7 separate regions of the Homo sapiens genome follow, and regions 1, 2, 3, 4, 5 and 7 are each linked to region 6. Evidence: fine-mapped expression QTL. A gene starts in region 6. Each other region holds a variant in brackets. All regions are shown on one strand. Distances are from middle to middle.

Region 1 (4,075 bases), 390 kb before region 6:
AACTTGGAATCAAGATTAGGTTAGAATAACACTGCTGTAGACAGTTTATCAGCTCTTCAGCATACGTCCGTTTTCCTTGAAGGATGAGCCTGTAGAAACCTCTGACAATAAAGTTTATTTTACACCCATTCCCTTGCCTATGATTTTTTCATACAAATCACAATTATAAAACTTTCTTGCTCCAGCTAAAAGCAGGAAACTCAATCATGAATGTGTTCACTAAATATATACCACAGAATGATAACAACCAGTCTGATTGCATCACTTGATTCCAAAATTAAATGTTAGCCCTCAGGGGTGCAACTACATGTATCTCCAACTCTGGAAGCCACAGGCAACATATTCCTGTTTCCTTGCAGGGAAACAGATCTATAAGCAGGGCGGCAGTCTGACACATGTACATTCCTGGGAAACCCAAGGAAACAATGATAGTGACGCAGGGCAGGCAAGCCCCCAAACTGAAAGAGTTTTGCTAATGTCGCGATTGGCTTTCTATGTTATTTGAAGACTGAGATCTCCATGAGGAGTGAAGATAGGTAATGCCTAAGGCTGAGGCATGACCTCACTGGGTCACCTTAGCTGTAAAGTGAGGTCAGTTGTCACCTTGCAAACCTTTTGGTAATCCAAATCTTGGAATGATTTCTTTAAGAATTTAGACACTTCCAATACTTTTCCTGTCCTTGTGGGGAAAGCTTCTATCCACCTGGTGAAAGTGTCTATAAATACTAGCAAATCTTGTAGTCCCCTGTAAGGTGGCATCTGGTTTAAGTCTGTCTGCCAGTCTTCACCATGGTATGTTCCTTGGTGTTGTACAGGTTTAAGCAGGGATCGGGGTATGGGGTGGCTTCCTGAGTGGTAACCCTTTTTATAGTTTGGAACAGTCCCTTCCGCAAGAATATTTAGGAAACTAATTTAAATGGAAAATCCTGTCCCAAATGTGAGGAATCATGAAAATGTTTAATTATTTCCCATCTGTCAGCCTCAGGAATAGAGTTTGTTCTTTTCTAGCAACCATCCAGATGGGTCTCCCTGGAAGCCTTTTACTCAGTCCCTTTAATTTCCTTAGGGGTATATTATGGTGTCACTGACACGGATGGAGTACCTGGTAGTAGCGCAGCAGCCTGAAATACCAGGGTTTCCTTAGCTGTGGCCTTAGCTGCTCTTTCCACCAGGGAATTTCCTCTAATAATAAAAGTGTCTCCCTTCTGGTGTCCCCTGCGGTGAGTAATTGTTATTTCTTTGGGAGTTGGACAGCATCTAAAAGTTCCAAGATCTGAGTAAAGTTGTGTGGGGGATCCCTTGGCTCTTGATAGTCCCCTTTCCTTCCCTATGGCTGCATGAGCATGGAGCACCAGGAACCCATATTTAGAGTCAGTCAACACATTGACTCTTGAGGTTTTGTTCTTTTTTTTTCTTTTTTTGAAACGGAGTCTTGCTGTGTCGCCCAGGCTGGAGTGCAGTGGCATGATCTCAGCTCACTGCAATCTCAGCTCACTGCAAACTCAGGGATTCTCATGCCCCAGCCTCCCAAGTAGCTGGGATTACAGGCGACCCCCACCACACCCAGCTAATTTTTGTATTTTTAGTAGAGACGGGGTTTCGCCATGTTGGCTAGGCCGGTATAGAACTCCCAACCTCAGGTGATCCACCCACCTTGGCCTCCCAAAGTGCTGGGATTACAGGCGTGAGCCACCGTGTCCAGCTTAAGTCTTTTCATGGTTGGAAGGCCCTAATTAGAGCAGCTAATTCTGCTTTTTGAACAGAAGTCTGAGAAGGTAAACCCTTGGCCTCAAAAACTTCTTGTTGGCTAAGCTTCCTTTCTTACTCCCTCATGAATATAGCTATTTCCATCTCTAAACCACTCAACATTTGGGTTAGACAAGAGCTTGTCTTCAAGGTTGGGCCTTCTAGAGTAGAGCTCTTCCGTGGTTTCCACACAGGAGTCAATGAGTTTGGGATCTGTTTCTTGAGACGTGAGGTGCAGCAACAGAGTAGCAGGGTTTAAAAATCAGGACACTTTCAGGGTAACATCTGGGGTGTCAAGCAGAAGGGTCTGATATTTAAGTAACTGGCCCCCTGTTAGCCATTGGTGTACTTTTGCCTCTAGGACCCTCTGTACTGTACTTCATGGGGTGGCAGGGGGTGGGGGTGGGGGTGGGGTGGTATGGCATGTAATTGTTGTCCCAAGGTAAACTTACTGGTTTCGTCTAACGATAGAGTGATGGTAGTCACAGATCTCAAGCTTCTTGGTCACCTAGCTGCCACCTGGTCTAGCTGTTTAGAGAAATAAGCCACTGGTCCAAAGCAATTCCTCAGCCTTTGAGTTAGAACATTCGAAGCTGTCCCTTGTTATTCATCCACATAGAGGGTGAAAGGTTTTTCTAAGTTC[G/A]AGAGTCCTGAGGCAAGGGATGTCCCTGGCTTTTCTTTTAAGGCTAAGAATGCCTTTTGACAGGTTCCAAGCTCCGCCTCCTGGGTTCACACCATTCTTCCGCCTCAGCCTCCTGAGTAGCTGGGACTACAGGCGCCCGCCACCACAGCCAGCTAATTTTTTTGTATTTTTAGTAGAGACGGGGTTTCACCGTGTTAGCCAGGATGGTCTCTATCTCCTGACCTCCTGATCTACCCACCTCGGCCTCCCAAAGTGCTGGGATTACAGGCGTGAGCCACCGCACCCGGCCAACAAGTTTTTTTTTTTAAATGAACAGAGCATCAGTGAATGATAGTGCAAGTTTAAGACACCTAATAGACAAGTTAAAGGAGTCCTCCAGGCAGAAGGAAACTGACACCAGATGAAAATGTGGATGAAAAAAAAAAAGACACTAGAAATGACATCTACATAGGCAAATATATAATTTTAACATCTGACTGTTTAGCTGGGCACGATGGCTCACGCCTGGAATCCCGGCACTTTGGGAGGCCAAGGAAGGCGGATCACTTGAGGTCAGGAGTTCGAGACCAGCCTGGCCAATATGGTGAACCTTCCTCTCTACGAAAAATTCAAAAATTAGTCATATATGGTGGCGCAAGCCTGTAATCTCTGCTACTCAGGAGTCTGAGTCAGGAGAATCGCTCGAACCCGGAAAGCAGAGGTTGCAGTGAGCCAAGACTGTGCCACTGCACTCCAGCCTGTCCGATAGAGTAAGACTCGTCTTAAAAACACCACCACCAGCAACAAAAAAGCAAAAACAAACAAACAAACAAACAAACAAACAAACAAAAACACATCTGACTCTTGAAACAAAAGTAATAGAGATGGATTGTAAGGTTTATAACAGGTGTAAAGTAAAATGCATGACAATAGCATAAAGGCAGGGGGAGGAGTCATGTGAAGAGGTATGATGCCACTTGAAGGCAGACTGTGATGGGTTAATTTTTGTGGAAAGCAAGGCAGAATTTTTGAAGTTTGTTTCTTCAAATACTTTCTGTTTCCCGTACATACAAGCTAGTTTGTTCTGCAGAGATCTCATTTTCTAGGAGGCTCGGAGGGGGACCTTCTGCTGTCTGTCCTCATGGGATGCACAAGACACAAGGGAACAGTCTTTCACTTTTAAATACATTGATGGGTCTGAGGAGATAGATACAACTGCATTTTTTTTTTAAATGAGGTGGGATTCTCATTGGTCTTGAACTTCTGAGCTCAGTGGAGGCTTCCCCTACTTCAGCCTTTCAAAGCGTTGGGATTAATAGGCATGAGGCACTGCGCCTGGTCACAACCAACGTTTAAAATCACGTCCCTGGGTGGTCTGTAACCACCAACCTTATGGTTAACAGCCGAACGCGCTAACCGATTGCACCACAGAGACAACCTCAATCGCTTGCTTTCATCTCTATATAGATTAAGCAATCACTAAACCCTAGGAGTTGCCATTTGCTTTCTGCGGGACAACTGTGCAGACTACAAAGCTTCAGAAAACCGGAGAGGCTGAGTCGACTAATCGTGTTGTTGCACGTTAGAAACGCGTGCATTGCGTGACTCTGAAGCCAGAAGGGCGGCCGAATGGCCTTCACCCTGCGTTCACCCTCGCCTGCTTCAGAAGCCAGTGCCTCTGGAAATGCCTGGATCTGCGACCCCAGC
Region 2 (4,075 bases), 36 kb after region 6:
TTGGAGGAGACGGCTTTTGTGTAGAGCCACTGACTACTCCCAGGACCCAGGGCAGCCCCTGACCTCTGCCCTCTCCAGCCTGAAGCTTGCCAATGAGGACAAGGAGCAGAAGCTGGCACTCCTAGAGGAGGCACGGACAGCTGTGGGCAAGGAGGCCGGGGAGCTGCGAACTGGGCTGCAGGAGGTGGAGCGCTCACGGCTGGAGGCTCGGCGGGAGCTGCAGGAGCTCCGGCGTCAGGTACTCTCCCTGTGCCACCCCTTAGCCTGGGGCTTGCTGTGTGCCCCGGGCCAATAGCTCCCCCTTTCTGGAATTACGTTTCTACCCCTATGTAAAACCAGGGGCTTGAACTATGACAAGCCCTCTCACCTAACCTTGGTGTGAATGGATGGGCTTTGAGGAGTCCTTGAATCCCTGAAACTGTGCAAAAGTCTGCGTGCATTTGTGTGCACACTCAGGCTCACATTTCTGCAAGGAGAGGAGCTGGTGTCCTTGTCCAGTTCTCAAAGGAATCTGCAAACAACAAAAGGTACAGATTTTGTGAACTAGGTCAGAGGTTGGCAAATGGTTTTTTGTAAAGAGCCCAAATGGTCAATATTTCCAGCTTTACGGGCCACACAGTCTCTGTTGCAACTACTTGACTCTGCTGGGGTAGTGAGAAAGCAGTCCCAAACAGTGCATGAACAGAGGGGTGTGGGTTCCAGTAAAACTTTGTTTAGGGACACTGAAATGTGAATTTTCTGTCATTTTCATGTGTCAAGAAATGTTGTTCTTCCTTTAGAAATGATCCATTTTCGATGATTTAAAAATGTAAAAAAAAAAAAAAATCCTTAACTCAGACCCTTGTAGAAACGGGAGATGGGCTGAATTTGGCCTGTGAGCTGTAGTTCGCTGACCCGTGAATTCGATGATCTGCAAACTCAACAGCAGCATGTATTGAAGAAGCACCTGCTGTCTACTGGGCACTGGCCTGGACACTGTGGGTTCAGGCTTCTCACTCTAGAAGATGCAAAGAACAGGAAATGGCCTCATTCAGCCCCTAGGCGCTGCCTCACCCAGAGATATCACAACCAGGCCAGGCGCAGTGGCTCACACCTATAATCTCAGCACTTTGGGAGGCGGAGGCCAGTGGATTGCTTGAGCCCAGGAGTTCGAGACCAGCCTGGGTAACATGGTGAAAACCTGTCTCTACTAAAAATACGAAAAATTAGCCAGCTGTGATGGCTCATGCCTTTAATCTCATGCTTTGGGAGGCCAAGTTGGGAGGACTGCTTGAGCCTAGGAGTTCAAGACCAGCCCAGGCAACATAGTGAGAACCAGTCTCTACAAAAAATTTAAAAAATAGCTAGGTGTGGTGACACGCTCCTGGAGTCCCAGCTACTTGGGAGGCTGAGGTGGGAGTATCCCTTGAGCCCAGGAAGTCAAGGCTGCAGTGAGCTGTGATCGCATCACCGCACTCCAGCCTGGGCGACAAAGCAAGACCCTGACTCTAAAAAAAGTTTTTAAACTTTTAATTTTTATTTTATTTATTTATTTACTTTCTGAGATGGAGTTTCACTCTTGTTGCCCAGGCTGGAGTGCAGTGGCGCAATCTCGGCTCACTGCAACCTCCGCCTCCCGGGTTCAAGTAATTCTCCTGACTCAGCCTCCCAAGTAGCTGGGATTACAGATGCCCGCCACCACACCTGGCTAATTTTTTTGTATTTTTAGTAGAGACAGGGTTTCACCATGTGGGCCAGGCTGGTCTCGAACTCCTGATGTCAGGTGATCCACCCACCTTGGCCTCCCAAAGTGCTGGGATTACAGGCATGAGCCACGATGCCTGGCCCCCCCAAATTTTTTTAATTAAAAAAATTGTTTTTAATTACAAAAAAAGAGATCACAACTGGATAGCCAGAGATATTCTGATACTCTGATAGCCAGAGATACCACAGCCCCCTTCACCCAGGCCCCTTCCTGAGAAACCACAAGACTCCCGGAAAGGAGCTGGCATTTGCGTGCCAGCTTTTGCTGGACGCGTTGCATGCTACGGCCTCTCCTGTTACCCCTGCTGTAGCACATGGGGGAGGTAGGCAGTACCCC[T/C]CCCTGCTCCTGTGGGGAAATAGGGGCTTAGAACATTGCCGTTGTCTCAGATCGAATCCCAGTCTGGTGTGTGTGGGCTGTGTGACTTTGGGGAGGTTACTCTGACACTCTGAGGCTCAGTTTTCTCATCTGTTAGATAGGGATAATGTTACTACCTACCTCATATAGCATTGTACCAAGATTAAACGAGTTAATATAACTGAAGTGCTTAGAACAGGACTGGACACATGGTAAGCGCTCCAAAAACGTTCATCGCCATCGTAGAGGGGAAAGATAACCCAGGGAGCTGTGGTTCCTGCCTGTGAACTCCTGGTCTGCTAAGGGCTGAGCCCTCCTTCTATTATACCCACCCCTTTATGAAAGGTAGTTTTGGCCCATTGATTAAGTGGTAAACAGGCCACTGGTGCCCAAGTGCCTGGCATCGCCCAAGTTCAGTGTGGTTGTGTAGGGGCCGGCTCCCAGTGGATGTGGGGTGGTATTTGATACATGTGTCCCTACAGCAGTAGGTACCAAGTGGCCTTGGGCCAGAACTGGGAGGGTACAGGGGCAGAGCTGAACCTGCTGCCATTCCCGTGCTCTCACAGATGAAGATGCTGGACAGTGAGAACACCAGACTGGGCCGGGAGCTGGCGGAGCTGCAGGGCCGCCTGGCGCTGGGCGAGCGGGCAGAGAAGGAGAGCAGGCGGGAGACCCTGGGCCTCCGGCAGAGGCTGCTGAAGGGCGAGGCCAGCCTGGAGGTGATGCGGCAGGAGGTAACTGAGCAGGCGGGCAGGCTGGTGCATCTTTCCTTCCCCCAGCAGGAAGCAGGTGGGCACCCCAATGCTGGGGCCATTCTGAAAGGCCACTCCCTAGGGCTTGCTCCTTCCCCCACTCCTTGAGACTCTTCCCCAGTTGTAGTAACAACAACCCAAAGAACAGTGGGCCTACTGTGTGCCGGCACAAAATGGGTAGGGAGAGGCCCTGTAGATACAACCTTGTTTGATTTCCCCAGCAGCCCTATGGGGTAGGTACTGTTAGCCCTTTTTATTTAGTTATTTATTTTGAAATGGAGTCTCACTCTGTCGCCCAGGCTGGAGTGCGCTGGCACCATCTCGGCTCACTGCAACCTCCGCCTCCTGGGTTCAAGCAATTCTTCTGCCTCAGCCTCCCGAGTATCTGGGATTACAGGTGCTTGCCACCACGCCCAGCTAATTTTTTGTATTTTTAGTAGAGACAGGATTTCACCATGTTGGTCAGGCTTGTCTCAAACGCCTGACCTCAGGTGATCCACCTGCCTCGGCCTCCCAAAGTGCTGGGATTACAGGTGTGAGCCACCACACCCTTCCTACCATTAGCCCCATTTTACAGAGCCCTCAGAGAGGTCGAGGGATCTACCCAAGGTCACACAGCCACCTAAGTCTGTCTGACTCCAAAGCCCACAGGCTACCCGCTCTGCCTTTTCCGGCTGTTTCATTGCCATGAATCTGTTGTGTGGCCTGAACCAAGTCACGTCATCTCTGTGCCTCAGAGCGCTCATGAGAGATGGGCTAGCACAGCCGAGCATGTATGAAGGGCCCTGGCACAGGTCCTGGCAACCAGCTGCTCAGTAGATGGGTTTCCAGTGAAACTGGTGACCGTGAGAGGTTGACTCTCTAAATGGCAGGGGTGGCTTTGTGTCTGTGTGACCATGCATCCCATCAGGAAATGATATTTTAGTGCATGCCCCCATTGTGTGCAAATTTATTGATAAATTATGGGCAAGGGCGGCAATGTAGCCTAGTGGTTAAGGGAACAGCCTCTGGACACAGCTCCCTTTGGAACCAGTGGGCACTTAACCTTCCTGGCTGTTCACTGTGTTCTCAAGTGCAGCCCACAGCCCCCGTGTGGCCCCGTGTGGTATGCCTCCCCGCCTTTCCCCCACCCCCCAGGGCTGTGAGTACATGTGATTAATAAGCTGCTGTCAAGCTATTAAAAACAAAAAACAAAAAAAAAAACAGAAACAAAAACAGCCGGGCG
Region 3 (4,075 bases), 21 kb after region 6:
TGTTCTACCCGCGTCCATCTCCCAAAGTGCTGGGATTACAGGCATGAGCCACCGCGCCCGGCCAACATTTATTTTTTAGTATTCAGTTTTGTTTTGTTTTGTTTTGTTTTGCTTTGTTTTGAGTCACACTCTTGCTCTGTTTCCCAGGCTGGGGCACAATTGGTCCATCACAGCTCACTGTAACCTGGAACTCCCAGACTCAAGCGATCCTCCCACCTCTACCTCCCAACTGCCCCTAGTTGGGGGCCTGGGCCTGGCCTGGGGAAGGATATGGGACCGAAGCCTGAGAGTTAGGTTTCCACTCCCTTCCTCTGTGCCCTCACCACCCTCTGAGCCCTCACCTCCCTGGGTTCCTGGGCAACTCTGATCTCAGCCTCGAGGATAGTAGACAAGCCGCCAACATTTCTAAATTTTTTGTAGAGATGGGGGTCTCACTATGTTGCCCATGCTGGTCTTGAACTCCTAGCTTCAATCACTCCTCCCACCTCAGCCTCCCAAATTGCTGGGATTACAGGCATAAGCCACTGTGCCTGGCTCTATTAAAATTTAATTAAAATTTTTAAAAAGTGAAAATTCAGGCTGGGTGTGGTGGCTCACACCCAGCTTGCTGGCCAACATGGTGAAACCCTGTTTCTACTAAAAATACAAAAATTAACCAGGCATGGTGGCATGCTCCTGTAATCCCAGCTATTCAGGAGGCTGAGGTGGGAGAATCACTTGAACCCCGGAGGCAGAGGTTGCAATGAGCCAGGATCGTGCCACTGCACTCCAGGCTGGGAGATAGAGCGAGACTCCATCTCAAAAAAAAAATAATAATAATAATGCTGGGCCCGGTGGCTCACACCTGTAATCTCAGCACTTTGGAAGGCCAAGGCGGGCGGATCATGAGGTCAGGAGATTGAGACCATCCTGGCTAACACAGTGAAACCCCGTCTCTACTAAAAATACAAAAAGTAAATTAGCTGGGCGTGGTGGCAGGCACCTATAGTCCCAGCTACTTGGAAGACTGAGGCAGGAGAATGGCCTGAACCCGGGAGGCGGAGCTGGCAGCGAGCCGAGATGGCGCCACTGCACTCCAGCCTGAGCGACAGAGCAAGACTCCGTCTCAAAAAAAAAAAAAAAAGAAAAAATTCAGTTCTTTAGTTGCCCTAGCCACATTTCAAGCACTCATCAACCATACATGGCCATAGAACATTTCTGTCATCTCAGCGAGTTCTATTGCCAGCACTATTTTGGACTGTATTTCTTGGAGTTTTTTTTAGAGATGGGGTCTTGCTGTGTTGCCCAGGATGGTCTCAAACTCCTGGCCTCAAGTGATTCCCCTGCCTCGGCCTCCAAAAATGCTGGGATTAGAGGCATAAGCCACCATGCCTAGCCTTGAAGATTTTTTTTTTCTCTTAATTTGAGACAGGGTCTTGTTATGTCACCCAGTCTGGAGTGCAGTGGTGCGATCTCATTTCACTGCAACCTCCACCTCCTAGGCTTAAGTGATCCTTCCATCTCAGCCTCCTGAGTAGCTGGAACTACAGGCACACACCACCACGCCTGCCTAATTTTTCTGTTTTTTGTAGAGATAGGGTTTCGCCATGTTGCCCAGGCTGATCTCTAACTCCTGAGCCCGTCTCGGCCTCCCAAAGTACTGGGATTATAGGTGTGAGCCATCACGCCAGGCACCCTGAAGATTTTTAAGACAAGAAATTATCCACTTCTTAGCTGCCAGGTTGTTTTTGATATTTTGTTGTTTGGTTTTTCTCTTCATAAATGTAACCATCTAATGAAAAGTTTGAAAAATAGGAAT[A/G]AAAAGACAGCGCCTTCTCACAGCCTCATCTGCCCATCCTAATTCATTTAGGGCACTGGTTTTCCTTCCCATTGTGTTGCCTGGCAGTGAGATAGCAAACGTTTCCTGCACACCTACTGTGTGCCAGGCTCTTGGCCGAGTGTTTTGTATGTACTCTGTGATTTAGTCTTCCTGTCAAACTCATGCAATTCGGAACTCTGTTGTTGTAAGCTTGAGAGACTGGCTCAGACTCATACAGCGTGTGTGGCTGGGGGTGGCAGGGTGGGAACTGGAATTCAGGTCCATGTGAGAGTAAACCCAAGCTTTCCATGCCTGGAAAGGAGAAGGTCTTTTTAAGCAGTTGTGTTCACAGCAAACATCCCATTTTGCATTCTGCTATTTTTACTTAACAGCACATTGTCGACTGAGCGAGGTGGCTCACACCTGTAATCCCAGTATTTTGGGAGGCCAAGGCGGGTGGATCACTTGAGGTCAGGAGTTTGAGACCAGCCTGGCCAACATGGCGAAACCCCATCTCTACTAAAAATAAAAAAAAATTGGCCGGGCACAGTGGCTCACTCCTGTAATCCCAGCACTTTGGGAGGCCGAGGCAGGAGGACCACCTGAGGTCGGGAGTTCGAGACCAGCCTGACCAACATGGAGAAACCCTGTCTCTACTAAAAATACAAAATTAGCCATCCGTGGTGGCACATGGCTGTAATCCCAGCTACTTGGGAGGCTGAGGCAGGAGAATCGCTTGAACTCTGGAGGTGGAGGTTGCAGCAAGCCGAGATCGTGCACTGCACTCCAGCCTGGGCGACAGAGTGAGATGCCGTCTAAAAAAAAAAAAAAATTACTGGGCGCATTGGCTCATGCCTGTAATCCCAGCACTTTGGGAGGCCGAGGCGGGCAGGTCATGAGGTCAGAAGATTGAGACCATCCTGGCTAACACAGTGAAACCCCCATCTCTACTAAAAATACAACAAATTACCCGGACATGGTGGCGGGCGCCTGTATTCCCAGCTACTTGGGAGGCTGAGGCAGGAGAATGGCGTGAACCCGGGAGGCGGAGCTTGCAGTGAGTGGAGATTGCGCTACTGCACTCCAGCCTGGGGGACAGAGCGAGACTCCGTCTCAAAAAAAAAAAATAAAACAAAATCACGCTGTGAAGTTTTTTCGCACCTATGGCCAGTGGGGAACGTGGCAGCTCATGGCAAGTCTTTGGGGTCCCAGTTGTTCCCTTCTCCTCCCTCCCCTGCCGTGGCCACCATGTGCCTGTGTAGCAGGAAGCTGTGGGATCTGCAGACTCAGCTCTATCAGGCTTCCCAGAATTGAGGGGCATGGGGTGTTATAGGGGACATTTCCTGGTCACATGGCCTAGCAGAGCTGGTGGCACAATTGCCGTGTGTCCCAGGAGCCTAGCTCGGCCTCTTCTACCTGGTAGGGTGCTTGGAGATCACACCAGCACCTCCATCCACTCCAAGTGGGCGGACTGGAGAGAAGGAAAGCCAGGTTCTTCTGCTGGAGTGTGTGAGTGAAATGAGTCAGCCATGGACAGGGTGGTCAGGGAAGGCTTCCTGGAGGCAGGTGCCTTGGAAGACTGGAGGATGTAGCTCATGGCTAGAGGAGCAGCCAGCCACCTTCCCTGCAGAGAGCAGCCCCAGCATCCCCTCTGCTCCCCCTCCCCTTGTCCTGAAGGGAGAAGAGCAACCTGGCCCACAGCCTGCAGGTGGCCCAGCAGCAGGCCGAGGAGCTGCGGCAGGAGCGGGAGAAGCTGCAGGCTGCCCAGGAGGAGCTGCGGCGCCAGCGGGACCGGCTGGAGGAAGAGCAGGAGGACGCAGTGCAGGATGGCGCGCGGGTGCGCCGGGAGCTTGAGCGCAGGTGAGCAGCATCTCGCCACCCTGCCAGGACCCTTCAGATGTGCCTCGGGTCCCCTGACAGTGCCCCCCTGGGGTTAGGTGACACCCACTGGGTCCTGGGCCTCCTACCGTCTGGACCCCTCCGATGTCGGGTTTTCTAACCAGACCCATTTCAGGAAACTGGGGCTCAGGGAGGTATAGTCACTTACCTGGAGTCAGAGAACTAGTTAAAAGGTAGAACTTGGATGATAATAACAAGAATAATTAAAATAACAGTAGTAATATTAGCAGTAGTATTTTAAAAATTTAGTTAGAAGAATAATAATATCCTTACTAATTTCACTAAGTGCCAGATACCATTTTAAGCAATTCAGTTCTCTCATTTAACTCCATGATAACTCTGTGACATAGAAGCGGTTATCTCCATTTTGTGGATGGT
Region 4 (4,000 bases), 790 kb before region 6:
TTCAGCATGCCCTTGTACACCTCCCCAAACTCTCCTGTGGGCAGACAGGGTCAGGGGAGTGCCCTGGTCAGCCCCGGCATGAGGGCTCCCACACTGTGTCACCACCGCTGCCTCCTCAGGGCCCCTTGGCAGGGGGCCAACCTCACCTGCTCCGATCACCTTCTGCCGAGTGACACAGGATGGATGGATCTCGGTAGTGAACTTCAACACAGCCTGGTTGGGGTCCTCATATGTGTGGGGGTCCACGTATGTCTTCAGGGGCTTCAGTTGTTCTGGAAGGAGAAGGGGTGGGGTCACAGGCAGCTCAGGAGGGGCCCCATGGGGGGTGCTCTGGAGTCAGAGGAGAAGGTCACGTGATCTTCAGAGACTTGGACCAGGCTGTGGGGGACGGACCCCTCAGAGCTGCCCACGGAAGCCTGTGGCCCCACCCCAGTGCCCTGGGAACACCCTGGCTGCCCCCACCTCCCCCACAGAGCTGGGGACGGTGCGGGCAGGGCTGGGCCTGGAGCGGGGGCTGCGTCTCACCTGACTTGGAGAAGTAAACGTCCTCCGGGGACTGGCGGGCACGCTGGTTCTTCCTCCTGAAAGAGCCCCACGGGGAACCAAATGCAGGGAGGTCAGTGAGGTCTGCTCCGGCCAGGGAAGCCTCCTGGCCCTACTTTGGTCCTAGGAGGACCTGGGGTGCTCAGAATGCGGCCCAGTCCCCGCTTTTGCTGCCCAAGCTCCACTCTCAGGGCCGAGGGTGCGGAGAAGGCGGGTGGAGGAACAGGGAGGAAGTGAGCGAGCCAGGACTCCCTCTCCAGGATCTAGGCCCCAGAATGGCCCCTTAAGCAGTCGTGACGAAGGCATTCCCATTAGAGCTACTCGGGGATTCCTGCCTGCGTGTCCAGAGGAAGTGTGGACACATCATTAATAACAACAAGAGCAGAGGTAATGACCCCCGTGTCCCGGCCCCGCCGCGTGCCAGGCACTTCGCTACACACTCTAACTCGTATATCCTCGCACCATCCGGAGGCAGGGATTAGACTCGACTAGCATCCTGTGGGCCCCATCGTTCAGATGAGGAAATGGAGGTTCCTGCCCCATTTTCCCACCCAAGCCCATGTGGAGCCAGGGTATGGGCTCTGACGAACCTGCGGTGGATAAAGAAGCCAACTCCTGCCAGCACCAGAAGCAGGACCACACCGACAGCCACGCCGCCAATCACCGCCAAGTTGCCAGATCCCTCCGGGGCTGGTGGAAGAAATCAGCTGATGACAAGGGAGTTCCCCCACAAATTACAGCAACACCCGCGCTGCACCCAAGACACCTGGGCCCCTACTGTGTGCTGGGTGCTTGCACTTGGGAAGGCTCCAGAGGGTACTTAGTCCCATTTCATAGACGGTCAAGCGGAGGCCTTCCCGAAGGTCTCACGGGAGGTATTGCAGGTATGTGGGGCTCAAAGCTCTGGCTTTTTCTGAGATGCGGATTTGAACTTCCTCACACCACTGTCGTGAATCCACATCCCGGCTCCTCCACCCCTCAGCCTTCCATGCTTCCCCCTCCCCAGGCTTGGGGGCAGTCCCCGAAGGGCTGTCCCAGGCCGCCGGTGACCGAGAAAGGGGCATTTCTAAGTTATTTGATTCACTTCCTTTCCCAAGATGTCTCAATTGCTTGGTTCTGGGCCCTGGCCTGGTCCATGCCCAGGGTCCCCCAACTCACACAGCGTCTGGAATTCGTGCACCTTGCTGCCGGCCCCCTGGCCCTCCTGCGTCAGTGCCTGCACCTGGACCAGGTAGGTGGTGTCTGGGGCCAGGTCGTCCAGGGTCACGGAGAAACCCTCGGTGCGGCGCACATTGTAGCTGTTGGAGTCTCCCTGTGGGTGGGTGGCCGGCGGAGGAGCAGGCAGTGAGGGCAGGGCAGGGGCCTCGGCTCAGCCCGCTGGAGACCACCCCAAGCTAGCAAGGTGGCTTGCCTTTGTTAGCAAACTTGAGGCTCTTCTTACAGAGGAGGAAACTGAGGCTCGGAATTAAGTGACTCACTCAAGGTCAGAACCACTAAATGCATGAGCCAGGACTCAAACTGAGTGTGTGGGGTCCCAAAATTCTGCCCCTGTCCTCACCCTGACTGCCTCTTCCAAGGACGCCATGTCTTCTCTCGTACAAATCTCTGCTGTGCTGCCTTGGGAGAT[G/A]TAACCCCCTGGCAGACCCCAGGCCTCAGTTTCCCCATCTGCAGAAGGGTGCTTCTTCAGATGGCTGGGTGGTTTGGTGATCATCTATGTGACCAGCCTGTCCCCTGCTGTCGGCCCAGCTAGAGCCAGCCCCGCCCCTCTGGGAGTTACCTTCTTGCGGTAAGTGACCTCGTACTTCCACACTCGGCTCTGCTGCGGCGGGGGGATGCTCCAGGAGACGCTAAGCGAGGTGGTGCTGCGGCCCTCCAGCCTCACCTTGGGGGGCTCTGGGCAGGACAGGCAGTGGGGGAAGTGGGTAAGAAGCTGCCTACGAGCAGGCAGGGTTTGGGGGGACAAGTGGACGTGGAGCCACATCCTCCACAGCCCAGATTCTTTCATTTTTTTGAGACAGGATCTCGCTCTCTCACCCAGGCTCGAGTGCAGTGGCATGATCTCGGCCCACTACAGCTTTGAACTCCTGTGCTCAAGTGATCCTCCTGCCTCAGCTTCCTGAATAGCTGGGGCTACAGACACATGCTACTGTACCTGGCTAATTTTTGTATTTTTTGTAGAGATGGGGTCTCCCTATGTTGCCCATGCTGGTCTCAAATGCCTGAGCTCAAGCAATCCTCCTGCCTCAACCTCCCAAAATGCTGGGATTATGGGCGTGGTCACCACGCCCAGCTCCCAGGCTCTTTAGATCCCAACCTAGGATCCTAAACTTTCAGCTCCAGAGCACAGGGCCAGAGCCCCAGGCCTCCACCCTGGCCCCATCACAGGGGCTGGCACATCAGAGGTGCCCCATATTTACGAGTGCATAAATAATAATAATAATAATAATAATAATAATAAAAGGCCAGGTGTGGTGGTTCACCCCTGTAATCCCAGCACTTTGGGAGGCCGAGGCGGGAGGATTGCCTGAGGTTGGGAGTTCGAGACCAGCCTGACCAACATGGAGAAACCCCGTCTCTACTAAAAATACAAAATTAGCTGGGCATGGTGGCGCATGCCTGTAATCCCAGCTACTCAGGAGGCTGAGGCAGGAGAATCACTTGAATCCGGGATGCAGAGGTTGCGGTGAGCCAAGATTGTGCCATTGCACTCCAGCCTGGGCAACAAGAGCAAAACTCCGTCTCAAAAAAAAAGAAGAAGAAGAAGACAGAAGAAGAAAGAAGAAGAAAAGAAGAAAAGAAGAAGAAAGAAGAAGAGGAAGAAGAAGAAGAAGAAGAAAAGAAGAAGAAGAAGAAGAAGAAGAAGAAGAAGAAGAAGAAGAAGAAGAAGAAGAAGAAGAACTAACTTTTGCTGAATGCTTTCTTTTTTTTTTTTTCTTTTGAGACGGAGTTTCGCTCTTGTTGCCCAGGCTGGAGTGCAATGGTGCGATCTCGGCTCACCGCAACCTCCACCTCCTGGGTTCAAGCGATTCTCCTGCCTCAGCCTCCTGAGTAGCTGGGATTACAGGCATGCGCCACCACACCCAGCTAATTTTTTGTATTTTTAGTAGAGATGGGGTTTCTCCATGTTGGTCAGGCTGGTCTGGAACTCTCGACCTCAGGTGATCTGCCCACCTCAGCCTCCCAAAGTGCTGGGATTACAGGCATGAGCCACCGCGCCCAGTCTCAATTCTCAATTATTATCCCACTTTACAGGGGAGAACATTGAGGCCCAGAGAGGTTAAGTAACCTGCCCACAGTCACAGAGCTCAGAAGCGGCTCTGGAGCAGGAGTGTCCAATCTTTCAGCTTCTGTGGGCCATAATGGAAGAATGGTCTTGGGCCACAAATAAAATACAGCAACACTAACAACAGGTGATGAGCTAAAAAAAAAAAAAATTGCAGGCTGGGCGCAGTGGCTC
Region 5 (4,075 bases), 400 kb before region 6:
GCAGAGAATCTGCATTAATCCAGCTTTATCTTGTCAGGTTTGAGAAATAAAAATAAGCCCTAGGCCCTACAACCAACTGAATGGACTCCCTCTTGGCTGACAGGACCACAGAGAAACTTCGAAAGCAGTTTCTGGATGTGGCAGGCTAGGAGGTTGGACATGCCACCTCAAAACCCTCCCCTCACTAACTGCCATTATGATGCAGGAGAACAGCAGAGGGAATTGGAAGTTGGATAAAAGGCAGAGTGAGTGAAAGCAGAGAAAGAAGCAAGGTGATGGGGTGGGAGAGCAAGAAGCAAGATATAAGGCAGAAGTTGAGCAGCCAAAACAAAAAGTAAGATTTAAAAAAGCAAGCAAGGCTGGGCACGGTGGCTCATGCCTGTAATCCCAGCACTTTGGGAGGCCAAGGCAGGCAGATCACCTGAGGTCAGGAGTTTGAGACCAGCCTGGCCAACATGGCGAAACCCCATCTCTACTAAAAATACAAAAAATTAGCTGGGCGTGGTGGTGCACTCCTGTACTCCCAGCTACTTGGGAGGCTGAGACAGGAGCATCGCTTGAACCCGGGAGGCAGAGGTTGCAGTGAGCCGAGATTGCACCACTACACTCCAGACTGTGCAACAGAGCGAGACTCTGTCTCAAAAAAAAAAAAAAAAAAGAAAAGCAAGCCAGGACCCCATGGCCGGTGAGATCCAAACCAGTAAAGGGGCAGCTCCTCAGAGATAGGCATGTGCATTAGAGAAAAAAAGTATCCTTAACATGACTCCATATGATAATCAGCTCATTAAAACTCATGCATATGGACTGCACATCATGCATGTACTTAAAATTATGGGATGGAGGCAATGTGCAAGCACACAAGGGCCAAAGTAACTAAGCAACCCACCTATCAATCAAAAGGCAAACACTGGCTAACGATTAGGCATCCTTGGGAAGAGAAGAGAAAGAAACACACATAAAAAGACCCAACGTACACCAAACTAATACTGATCTCACATCCCAGAGATCAGCCCACTCTCCCCACTCTGAGACTGTTACTGTGCTTAATAAATTTTGCTTTGCTTTGCTGCTTTGTGTGTGTCATGTACAGTTCTTTGTTTGGGACACCAAGAGCCTGGAAATGCACGGCACCATCTGGCAAGAATTAGGATTTTTTTTCCTAAGGGTTAACAATCCAAGCCTTTGGAGAGACTTGCTTCACTGCTGTTATCAACCAACAGCCTGATGCTTTCCCTCCCTTTTGTGGTTTTGACAAAACAAGCAAGCAGCATTCCCTCCTGATAAGAGACCACCGACCTAGGAATCATTCTGGCCAGACTACAGAGGATGTACAGTGAGGGTTTTCATGTCCATTGCCTCAGATTTTGACGTCAGAGGGCCACAAACTCCACTCTCAGATGATTGCTAACGCCACCATTTTATGAACATGAGCCCCATGGAGAGGCACGCAGCTCAACTGCACATCTGCACATTTTTCCTCTTATAAACATTCATATTGGAATATTATTTGGTACTGCTCCCGTGAAAGATACATTTGCAGAATGGACTCAGATTAGAAGCATTATACAAGCACTATAATGTAGCAATGGCACATCCAGCTCTCTACACTATAGAAATGTCTGCAGGGTAAACATTTCCACAATGACCAAAGATATCTGTACAGGACTGGTGACTGCAGCATTCTTTGTAATCCTAAAACTATGAAACTAAAGTCATCTCAAAAACATTTTGTTTTTTTGAGATGGAGTCTCGCTCTGATAC[C/A]CAGGCAGTGCAGCGGTGTGATCTCAGCTCACTGCAGCCTCCACCTCCCAAGTTCAAACGATTTTCCTGCCTCAGCCTCCCGAGTAGCTGGGATTACAGGTGCATGCCACCATACCTGGCTAACAAAAACATTTTGAAAAGGGTTAAATAAATCATGCATAAACTGAGGAAAAATACTATTTTCAAAAATGATGGAGAGAATCACTTTCATGATGAATGATTCCACTGGTCACATTATTGATAGAGCAATCAGGAAACCCAGGCACATCCTGGAGGTAATACTGGACTCCTATTACTAAAATATGAAAAAATGGAGACACGTAAATACTCGTTTAAGCGTATAACGGACTGAATTAGAATTTTATCACATCAGAAGTGGGTTCCTAGGTCTCTGTTTCAGGATTCCTTAGTGACACAGGTGTAAACCCGGCATTTCAGGAGATAGCCGGCTAAGAATCTGGTCGGGGAGGTGGGCGGCCCTTGACATGGATCTGTCATAAATTAGTGGCTTGAGACTTTGGGAAGATAAAATCTTCCCCATTTATCTAGTGATTGACATTGCGTGAATGCTTCAAAAGTTCCAATAAGCGTCCCTGGGTGGGCTCGAACCACCAACCTTTCAGTTAACAGCCGAACGCGCTAACCGATTGCGCCACAGAGACAAGCGCTTCCAACTCTACTGGGCATCTAGGAAGGGCGCACTCACTGAACTTCCTCCGTTCCGTCTATTCTCAGGGCCCACCGGGCAGGACCACTGAGCAAGGCCTTGGAAAACCAGAGAGATTAGAGCGGTGAGTCGCGCCGGTCACGTTGGACGCCTGCGTGTTAGGAGATTCTGGAGCCAGAAGAACAGCAGAATTGCCTTCGCCCGCCCTGCCCCTCGCCTGCTGCAGAAGCTTCCAGAAACTCCCTGGTGGGCGACCCAGCCCGAGCTGCCTGGGGCCCCAAGGGAAGCTGAACGCCCTGTGGGCTCCTGGGATGGTTCTTCCCGTTCTTTGCGCCGCCTTCACCCATTGAAGGAGCCTGTGCCCACCCTGCCCAGTCGCTTTCCGGGCCGCTGAGGAGCTTCCGCTGCCATCTTCGGATCCTGTGTTCCGCACGGGGGCTCCACCAGGGCAGGGATGGTGGTGAGGGTCGCTCGTGGGTCCCCTCGCGGGGAGCAGGGTCTGGTACTCACCAGGGCGCACGACTAGGACTTGTGGAATGAATTCATCGTCGCCTTTAGCTTTTAGTCCTTTGAAGAGCCCTGAGAGTGGAAATCAAGAGATTTTTTCCACGGGGAAGTTCTTTTTACAAAGCGTTGATTTCTCGGCACCCGGCAGGGAGGGCAACTGGCAGGGTCTCTGGCGCACCTTCTGCGCGGTGGAGCCACGGGGGCTCAGCTGGGCGGTGGTGCGGCCGTGGGGTGGTAGGTCAAGAGCTGGGAAAGGAAAAAGCAAAAGCTGGGAAAGAAGCCGGGGAGCGGTGGACCAGACATCCAGACCTCCTGAAAGGCTCATGAAGGGGCACAGGCAGGATCTTCTGGAAGTGAGAATTGTTTTGTTTGTTTGTTTGTTTATTGTAGTAGAATGGGGAAATGGAGAGAGAACCTGAAAGAGCCCCAAACTCGAGGACCTATTGCTCCCCAAGAATAACATCTTCCAGAAGAACTAGACAGAAAACTAGGCGTCTGGGAACTCTGAAATCCTTGGAGGAGTAGCATCATCATGACCCTCTGTGTTCCTTTTGGCAAAGGACTTGCTCCCATTGTTTGCTTGTTCAATTGTCTGTCCGTTAAATAAATAAAACCCTTTTCCTATATCTTTAAAATTACGTTGGTTTTATCATTTTATGATTACAAGTAATGCTGCAGTCATCATTCTTGTACACTCTCATTGGCCACTGGTGTATTTCTATAGGGTGGAGGCCTGGAGAGTAGTTGTTCCAGCATAGTGTTTACATAGCTTTTATTTCATTCCGTTTTCTTTCCTTTGTTGCTTTATTAGCTATAACCGTTTTCTTATTTCAGAGGCTGCTTTAGGGTTTCCGGAATACATCTTTAATTTATCATAGTCTGCTTTCTAGTGTCATTATGCCTCCCTTTCTGGCCTTTATCCTAGTGTTATGTATCTTTACTTTATGCACTATAACCTTTGTGATTCATTATTATTACTTTTATTTGTTACGTCAAATATTTTTTGAAAGATTTAAATTATAAGAAAACGTGTAGTACATGCTTTCTAAATGCCATTTCCAATATTCGTTTCTTTGTGTAGGACCACATTTTTATCTGGTATCCTTTTGCTTCTGCCTGGAGGACGCAAGATTTCTTGTA
Region 6 (4,075 bases):
AGCCCAGACACGTGATGCTAATGACAATAGGAACAGTGGCCCCCATTGGCTAATAGCTCACCACCTGCCAGGTGTGGTAGGTACTATCAGTCGCATTTTTTTGTTGTTTTTGGTAGGACAGAGTCTCGCTATGTTGCCCAGGCTGGTCTCAAACTCCTGGGCTCAAGCGATTCTCCCATTTTGGCCTCCCAAAGTGCTGGGATTATAGACCTGAATCACCACACTCGGTCTAGTCTCATTTTATTTTATTTTATTTTTTTGAGACAGACTCTTGCCCTGTCACCCAGGCTGGAGTGCTGTGGCACAATCTCGGCTCACTGCAACCTCCTCCTCCTGGGTTCAAGTGATTCCCCTGCCTCAGCCTCCTGAGTAGCTAGGATTATATGCACATGCCACCACGCCCCAGCTAATTTTTTTTATATTTATTTATTTATTTATTTATATTTTTGAGACGGAGTCTTACTGTGTCGCCAGGCTGGAGTGCAGTGGCATGATCTCGCCTCACTGCAACCTCTGCCTCCCAGGTTCAAGCGATTCTCCTGACTCAGCCTCCCAGGTAGCTGGGACTACAGGTGTGCACCACCATGCCTAGCTAATTTTTGTATTTTTAATAGAGACGGGGTTTCACCATGTAGGCCAGGATGGTCTTAATCTCTTGACCTCCTGATCCGCCTGCCTCAGCATCCCAAAGTGCTGGGATTACAGGCCAATTCTTGTATTTTTAGTAGAGATGGGGTTTCACTATGTTGGCCAGGCTGGTCTCAAACTCCTGACCTCAAGTGATCTGCCCGCCTCAGCCTCCCAAAGTGCTGGAATTAGAGGCTTGAGCCACTGCACCTGGCCTGGTTTAGTCTCCTTTTAGAGATGAGAAAACTGAGGCTCAGGGAGGTAACCTGTTCAAGGTCTTACTGTCTTGAACACCATAGTTGCAAGTGACAGAGCTGAGTCTCACATGCAACCTCAGACCTGATACTGACTCCAGAGCTGTGCGCCTAAGCACTAGAGCACATAGCCTCCTTGCCCCAGGGAAAGAACAATGGGAGGTGGTGGGTGACCTCTGGGTCTCAGGGCCCTGGGATATAGGGACTGTGCCTTTTTTTTTTTTTTTTTTGAGACAAAGTTCCACTCTTGTTGCCCAGGCTGGAGTGCAATGGCGCGATCTTGGCTCACTGCAACCTCTGCCTCCTGAGTTCAATCGATTCTCCTGCCTCAGCCTCCCAAGTAGCTGGGATTACAGGTGTGCACCACCACACCCGGCTAATTTTTGTATTTTTGGTAGAGACGGGGTTTCACCATATTGGTCAGGCTGATCTTGAACTCCTGACCTCAGGTGATCCACCCGCTTTGTCCTCCCAAAATGCCGAGATTACAGGCATGAGTGCCTGCGCCTGGCTGGGACTGTACCTTCTGGATTTTCAAATGAATGAAATGAGTATTTCTTGAGTGTTGGCCACGTGACCCCCCAGCACCATGTCATGTGCTGGGTATGCACACACGATACTGTTTCATCCCCGGACGGCTCCGAGAGATGAGTACCAATATTATCACATCTTACGTAAGAGGACACTGAGTCTCAGAGAGGCAAAGTCAGTGTCCCTGGTGCACCCAGCTAGTGGGGGCTGGGGTGGGTGTGAAGGGGCCAGAAGCTTCCCAATAAGTGCCTGAAGGGCAAGGCTAGGGCATTTGTAGTTCGAGGCTCTACCACTGTGTCTAGGTCAGACCTAGGAATGCCGCAGGTGTTGCATAAATGCTCATCAGTCCAGGCTGGACCGCTCATGCCCAACTAAGTGCCAAGCCTGGCCTGGGTGATCTCACAGCCTGCATTCTTTGCCCTACACCTGTTGTGGGAAAACATACTCCCAGCATGCTGTAAATCCTCTCATTCTTAGCTAACCATGTGACTCCCGTTCTGGGCCAGAAAGATGGTCACAAATACTTAGGACTCTGGCCTTTCCCGCCGCATGGCTACTGACCCCACCCCCTGGGCTTGGAGGGCTCTAGGACCCAGCAACCTGCGCAGGGTGAAGAGTGTGTGAGGTCCTGACCTCCAGGTGTCTCCCCTGTTTCCTCCTCCCATTCCCTCTTCTCTCTCCTCCCTCCTTTTCTCTCCCTTCTCCTCCCCTCTCTTCATCCTTCCTCTTCCTTTGGCTCCCTGCCTCTGCTTCCCTCCTCTCCTGTCCTTTCCCATCCCCTCCCTCCTCAGCCCACATCCTGCTCCTCCCACCGCGGTGGTCACATGGGGGCGCCGCCGGATTTAAGCTTAATCTGCCTGGTGCTCAGCACAGCATCCTGGCTGTGGCGCGTGCTGACTGAGCTAGTCTTGGGGTCCTGGAGAAGGGGGCTGGAGGCATGCCCACAGCCTCCCCCCCATGAGCTTGGGGCTGGCGGGGGCACAGGAGGTGGAGCTGACACTAGAGACGGTTATCCAGGTGGGTCCTGGGGGCTGTGCCCACCCTGTCTGGGGCGGGGCAGCGTGGACTTAACAGGAGTGGTGAGAGGTGTGTGCGTCTTGGGGATCAAGGGGTGGGAGAGGTGTGGTGGTGGTGGGGTATACAGGGGCCCCCCGCTTGCAGTTCCTGGCAAGATGGGGGGCAGAGGTACACACAGGGTGCACCTGCTGTGGCTCCCTCATCCCAGTGCCCTGGGTTGGGAGAAGGGGGTCTCTACTGCCAGATTTTAGGGCTTGGGGGACCTCTGGCATAGCCAGATCCTCATCCATCTAGGGTCGGAACCGGATTGGGGCCCCCAACACTGGACTGCCTCCAGTGGGGTTTGGGAGTTACCCGTAGGGTTTGGTTCTCATCTCTGGCCCTGGGCCTTCTTCCTGGGGCAGTGAGCACACAAGAGGCTCTTTGCATGGGGATTTTTTGGATTCTAACTCCCAGGCTTCACTCCATCTTGAGGGGGCTCCTGGGGACCTGTATCTTGGGCAGTAGGATTCTGTGGCTCTCCCCACGAGGCCAGGGAGCCCCGGGTCCCATGTCCCCTGAAGACCCTCTCGCTTTTCCCACAGACACTGGAGAGCAGCGTCCTGTGCCAGGAGAAAGGCTTGGGCGCGCGGGACCTGGCCCAGGACGCTCAGATCACCAGCCTGCCTGCCCTTATCAGGGAGATTGTCACCCGCAACCTCTCCCAGCCTGAGAGCCCAGGTGCCACCCCCATCCGCTCCCCTCCACAAACACCACCCACATTTTACCTCTTCTCATGTCCCTTTCCTGAGCAGTCACCATGATGATCATGACTGTAACTCACTGTGGGGCAGGCACAGCTTTATGACAGAAGAACCCATTTTACAGATGAGGAAACAGAGGCTCAGGGATGTAATTTGTCCAGACTTATTCCGCATGTGGTGCAACTAGAAGGAAGGGCCGAGCATCTCCTGCGTGCTTGCCTGTAGCCTGCTGCAGAGATGTGAACCCCAAATCCCGTATTCCCACCCGGGGAAGGTGTGAGCTGGCTGAACCCAAGATACAGGAAGAGGGCAGCTCAGCTCAGACCAGGGTTTTGCGGAAGTCTGAGTGGATGGCGCCGTCCATCCGTTTCCCACGTGGGCAGGAAGGCGGATGGTCCCTGCTCCTCTCAGTGGGTGGCGCACACGGTGTAGTTATGTGGCTTGAGGATCTGGGAAAGGCACACTCAGTTGCAGCTGGTGTGCTGGCGTGTGGCGTTTTGGTGCTCTAACCATTGTCTGTGTTCAACTCCCAAGCTACAGACGGGCCCCCTCCTTGGGAGCGCCAGGGATGTTGGCGCCCTGGAGCCCCAGACAGGGAGAGACTCAGAGGGCCCTCACCCTGACACCTGGGGTGTATGTCCAGTTCTCCCAGGGTAGAAGGGGAACCCACAGGAGGTGGACAACCCCGCTTCTCCCGCTGGCCTTTCTTTCCCTCTTCTCTCTTTCTCCTTCTCCTCACAACCTGACCTATGCTATGCTCTCCTGAGCCCTAGCCTTTAAAGTTCCATGAAGCCCTTCTCTTGAGCGAGGCTTTGATGCTTTTCTGGGAGGATCTGGTTACTACTATTCTACCTTTTTTTTTTTTTTTTTTTTTTTTGAGACAGAGTCTCGCTGTGTTGCCCA
Region 7 (4,075 bases), 42 kb after region 6:
AGCCACGGCACCCGGTCTAGGCCACTTATTTTTTTGGGGAAGTGGGGTGATTCTTTTTTTTCAACTTTTGAGACAGGATCTCACTCTGTCACCTCAGTTGAAGTGCAGTAGTGTGATCTTGGCTCCCTCTGCCTTGGCAGCCTGTGCCTCCTGGGCTCAAGTGATTCTCCCACCTCAACCTCCTTTGTAGCTGAGACTACAGGTGTGCACTACAATGTCTGCTTAATTTTTGTGTTTTTAGTAGAGATGGGGTTTTGCCATATTGCCCAGGCTAGTCTTGAACTCCTGGACTCAAGCGATCCTCCCACTGGGATTACAGGCGTGAGCCACCGTGCCTTTCCTGGACCGGGGGCTGGAGGGCTCTTAATGCCTTTGACTCCTTATCTGATTTTCTGAGCTTCCATCCTGCCATATACTCCCACATACTTTCAGTCATCTCTAGGTTACTTAGGATACCAAATACAGCTAAGTGGAAATCTTACACTTGTTACACTGTATTGTTTTTAATTATTCTTTTTGTTTTTTTTTGAGATGGCGTCTTGCTCTGTTGCCCAAGCTGGAGTGCAGTAGCACGATCTCGGCTCACTGCAACCTCTGCCTCCTGGGTTCAAGTGATTCTCCTGCCTCAGCCCCCTGAGTAGCTGGGAGACTACAGGCGTGTGCCACCACGCCTGGCTAATTTTTGTATTTTTAGTAGAGACGGGGTTTCAAGGCTGGGCGCGGTGGCTCATGCCTGTAATCCCAGCACTTTGGGAGGCAGAGGTGGGCGGATCACGAGGTCAGGAGATCGAGACCACAGTGAAACCCCGTCTCTACTAAAAATACAAAAAAAATTAGCTGGGCACAGTGGCAGGCACCTGTAGTCCCAGCTACTCGGGAGGCTGAGGCAGGAGAATGGCGTGAACCCGGAAGATGGAGCTTGCAGTGAGCTGAGATCCCGCCACTGCACTCCAGCCTGGGCGACAGAGCTAGACTCCGTCTCAAAAAAAAAAAAAAAAAAAAAAAAAAACAGGATTTCAGCATGTTGGTCAGGCTAGTCTTGAACTCCTGACCTTACGTGATCTGCCCACCTCAGCCTCCCAAAGTGCTGGGATTAAAGGCATGAGACACTGTGCCCGGCACACCTGGCTAATTTTTGTGTATGTGTGTGTGTGTATATAAATATACATATATATATATGTATATTTTTTTTTTTTAGGAGAGATGGGGTTTCACCATGTTGGACAGGCTGGTCTCAAACTCCTGACCTCCAGTCGGGATGATCTGGGAACAGATGATGGTGATGGCTGCACAACAGTGTGAATGTAATTCATGCCGCTCAGTTGTACACTTAAAAATGATGAAAATGGCCAGACACGTTGGCTCATGTTTGTAATCCCAGCACTCTGCGAGGCCGGAGCGGGTGGATCACTCGAGGCCAGGAGTTCAAGACCAGCCTAGCCAACATGGTGAAACCCTGTCTCTACTAAAAATACAAAAAATTAGTCAAGTGTGGTGGCAGACGCCTGTAATCCCAGCTACTCGGGAGGCTGAGGCAGGAGAATCTCTTGAAACCAGGAGGCAGAGGTTGTGGTGAGCCGAGATCGCACCATTGCACTCTAGACTGGGCAACAAGAGCGAAACTCCGTCTCAGAAAAAAAAAAAAAAAAAAAATTGGGCAAAGCCAAGGTAGGGGCTAGGGCAGTTCATGCGGGGGCAGCAGGTGCCTCACTGAGGAGGTGATGGGTAAGGGGAGAACGTGAGCGAGCAGCTGGGAGGGGGACTCGGGGCGAGTAGGGAGGTCCTGAGTGGAGGTGCGCCTGTCCTGTGGACAGCAGGGGCCAGCAGTCCCAGAGCATCAAGCAGGGGGGTGAGATTTGGGGA[C/T]GAAGGGCTTGCTCCAATAGACATTATAGGCCTCTACGGGGACTTTTACCCTGAGACGATGGGACCTTCTAGAGCTGGAGGCCCCCAGGGGCAGGCCTGCTTCTTTGGGAACCTCTGAGCGAGGCCTTTTGGGTGGTGACCAAGTTCATGGCTGCGGAGCAGTTTTGGTGTCCCTCTGCGGCCAAGGCAGGATGCTCATGGCAGGACCCGTGTCCTGCAGTTCCAGTGCCAGCCTCCAGGTAGTGCCCTGGTTCCACCCGCCCTGCCCCCTCCACCTCCCCGGGCCATCACTCCAAGCAGGAGTGCTGCCAGGGAGTCGGGCTGCCTGGATTCCCATCTCAGCCCTGAAACTTCCCAGCATTGAGAACAACCAAATCACTTTGTTTTTGTTTTTTTTTGAGCCCAAGTCTCGCTCTATTGCCTATGCTGGAGTGCAATGGCGCGATCTCGACTCACTGCAACCTCCGCCTGCTGGGTTCAAGCGATTCTCCTGCCTCAGCCTCCTGAGTAGCTGGGACTACAGGCGTGCACCACTGCACCCAGCTAATTTTTTGTATTTTTAGTAGAGATGGGGGTTTCACCATGTTGGCCAGGCTGGTCTTGAACTCCTGACCTCAGGTGATCTGCCCGCCTCGGCCTCCCACCAGAGTGCTGGGATTACAGGTCTGAGCCACCGTGCCGGGCCCACTTTTTTCTTTTTCTTTTCTTTTCTTTTTTCTTTATTTTTTTTTTTTTTTGAGACAGAGTCTCTCTCTGTTGCCCAGGCTGGAGTGCAGCACAGTCTCAGCTCACTACAACCTCTGTCTCCAGGGTTCAAGTGCTTTTCCTGCCTCAGCCTCCAGACCTCAGCCTCCCAGGTAGCTGGGACTATAAGCGTGGGCCACCATGCTCAGCTAATTTTTCTCTTTTCTTTTCTTTTCTTTTCCTTTCTTTTCCTTCCTTCCTTACTTTCTTTTCTTTTCTTTCCTCTTCTTTCTTCTTTTTTTTGACCGAGTCTCACTCTGTTGCCCAGGCTGGAGTGTAATGGTGCAGTCTTAGCTCACTGCAACCTCTGCCTCCCAGGTCCCAGTTCAAGCAATTCTCCTGCCTCAGCCTCCTGAGTAGCTGGGATTACAGGCGCCCGCCACCACACCTAATTTTTGTATTTTTAGTAGAGACGGGTTTTCACCATGTTGGCCAGGCCGGTCTCGAACTGCTGACCTCGTGATCTGCCCACCTCGGCATCCCAAAGTGCTGGGATTACAGGTGTGAGCCACTGCTCCCAGTCTTTTCTTTCTTCTTTTTTTGAGACGGAGTCTCGCTGTGTTACCCAGGCTGGAGTGCAGCGGTTCGATTAGGAACACTGCGAGCTCCGCTTCCCGGGTTTAAGCAATTCTCCAACCTCAGCTTCTCGAATAGCTGGGATTACAGGTGCATGCCACCACGCCCAGCTAATTTTTGTATTTTTAGTAGAGATGGGGTTTCACTAGTTGGCAGGCTGGTCTCGAACTCCTGACCTCAGGTGATCCACCTGCCTTGGCCTCCCAGAGTGCTGGGATTACAGGCATGAGACACCGCACCTGGCCAATTTTTGTATTTTCAGTAGAGACGGGGTTTTACCATGTTGGCCAGGCTTGCCTTGAACTCCTGACCTCAAGTGATCCGCCTGCCTCGGACCCCACAGTGCTGGGATTACAGGTGTGAGCCACCACACCCAGTCAACAGAACAAGCAAATCACTTAACTGCTTTGTGCCAGCCTTGCCTGGGAAGAGGGTAAATTGTTCCTTACCTGTCAGGAAGTTGTTGTGAAGATGAAGTGCCTAGCACAGTGGGCACTCAGTATGGAGAGACTTGAGGTGATGCAGCAACCACCCTTGCACTGGGCCCTGGGAACAGTGGTGGATGGAAGAGACGAGGCCCAGCCCTCATGGTGCTCCTGGTCGGGGTGGGGGTGGCAGACATCAGACCCCGCTGAGGGTGGGATGAGCTCACTGTAATCCAGCCTGTGGCCAGAGAGGCCTCTGAGGGAGAGGGATGGCCCTAAAGGATGGGCCAGGCAAAGAGAGGCCATGGGGAGAAGGGGAGCAGCATGTACAGAGGCCCTGGAGCTGGGACAAAGAATGTTCTAGAACATGGGAGATGCAGGGTGGCCAGTTTGTAAAGGGTGAGAGGGTTTCAGCTGGGATGGGCAAGAAGACCCCTAAGCTATAGCAGAGAAGTTGGGCTTGATTC

Evidence for each region.
Region 1: its variant is fine-mapped to the expression of CROCC in lung (TOPMed, PIP above 0.99).
Region 2: its variant is fine-mapped to the expression of CROCC in whole blood (INTERVAL, PIP above 0.99). The same link has a PIP of 0.9 or more in T cells and prefrontal cortex.
Region 3: its variant is fine-mapped to the expression of CROCC in whole blood (INTERVAL, PIP above 0.99).
Region 4: its variant is fine-mapped to the expression of CROCC in prefrontal cortex (GTEx, PIP above 0.99).
Region 5: its variant is fine-mapped to the expression of CROCC in whole blood (TOPMed, PIP above 0.99). The same link has a PIP of 0.9 or more in blood mononuclear cells.
Region 7: its variant is fine-mapped to the expression of CROCC in whole blood (INTERVAL, PIP above 0.99). The same link has a PIP of 0.9 or more in follicular helper T cells.

What each region holds. Positions count from the first base shown.
Region 1 is chr1:16,528,669-16,532,743 of GRCh38, forward strand. No RefSeq gene overlaps it. Among named protein-coding and RNA genes, the nearest start is that of TRE-TTC4-1, 4.6 kb to the right of the region's middle. RefSeq lists an enhancer at 3,586-4,075. The variant G/A (reference allele first, on the strand shown) is at 2,390.
Region 2 is chr1:16,955,919-16,959,993 of GRCh38, forward strand. CROCC (ciliary rootlet coiled-coil, rootletin) reads left to right here. Exons shown (of 37, transcript NM_014675.5): 25 at 79-238; 26 at 2,665-2,832. Among named protein-coding and RNA genes, the nearest start is that of MFAP2, 23 kb to the right of the region's middle. The variant T/C (reference allele first, on the strand shown) is at 2,081.
Region 3 is chr1:16,940,625-16,944,699 of GRCh38, forward strand. CROCC (ciliary rootlet coiled-coil, rootletin) reads left to right here. Exons shown (of 37, transcript NM_014675.5): 14 at 3,476-3,658. Among named protein-coding and RNA genes, the nearest start is that of CROCC, 21 kb to the left of the region's middle. The variant A/G (reference allele first, on the strand shown) is at 1,799.
Region 4 is chr1:16,133,335-16,137,334 of GRCh38, forward strand. It overlaps EPHA2 (EPH receptor A2), which reads right to left. Exons shown (of 17, transcript NM_004431.5): 6 at 2,321-2,436; 7 at 1,702-1,855; 8 at 1,134-1,233; 9 at 526-581; 10 at 147-272; 11 at 1-34. Among named protein-coding and RNA genes, the nearest start is that of EPHA2-AS1, 20 kb to the right of the region's middle. The variant G/A (reference allele first, on the strand shown) is at 2,171.
Region 5 is chr1:16,518,236-16,522,310 of GRCh38, forward strand. It overlaps TRN-GTT5-1 (tRNA-Asn (anticodon GTT) 5-1), which reads right to left and starts at 2,423; the gene lies at 2,350-2,423. The variant C/A (reference allele first, on the strand shown) is at 1,762.
Region 6 is chr1:16,919,650-16,923,724 of GRCh38, forward strand. CROCC (ciliary rootlet coiled-coil, rootletin) reads left to right here and starts at 2,282. Exons shown (of 37, transcript NM_014675.5): 1 at 2,282-2,429; 2 at 3,014-3,149. The coding sequence starts at 2,370. RefSeq lists enhancers at 924-1,696, 1,697-2,468, 2,469-3,240, 3,241-4,012.
Region 7 is chr1:16,961,553-16,965,627 of GRCh38, forward strand. All of the region lies in intron 27 of CROCC (ciliary rootlet coiled-coil, rootletin), which reads left to right. Among named protein-coding and RNA genes, the nearest start is that of MFAP2, 17 kb to the right of the region's middle. The variant C/T (reference allele first, on the strand shown) is at 1,864.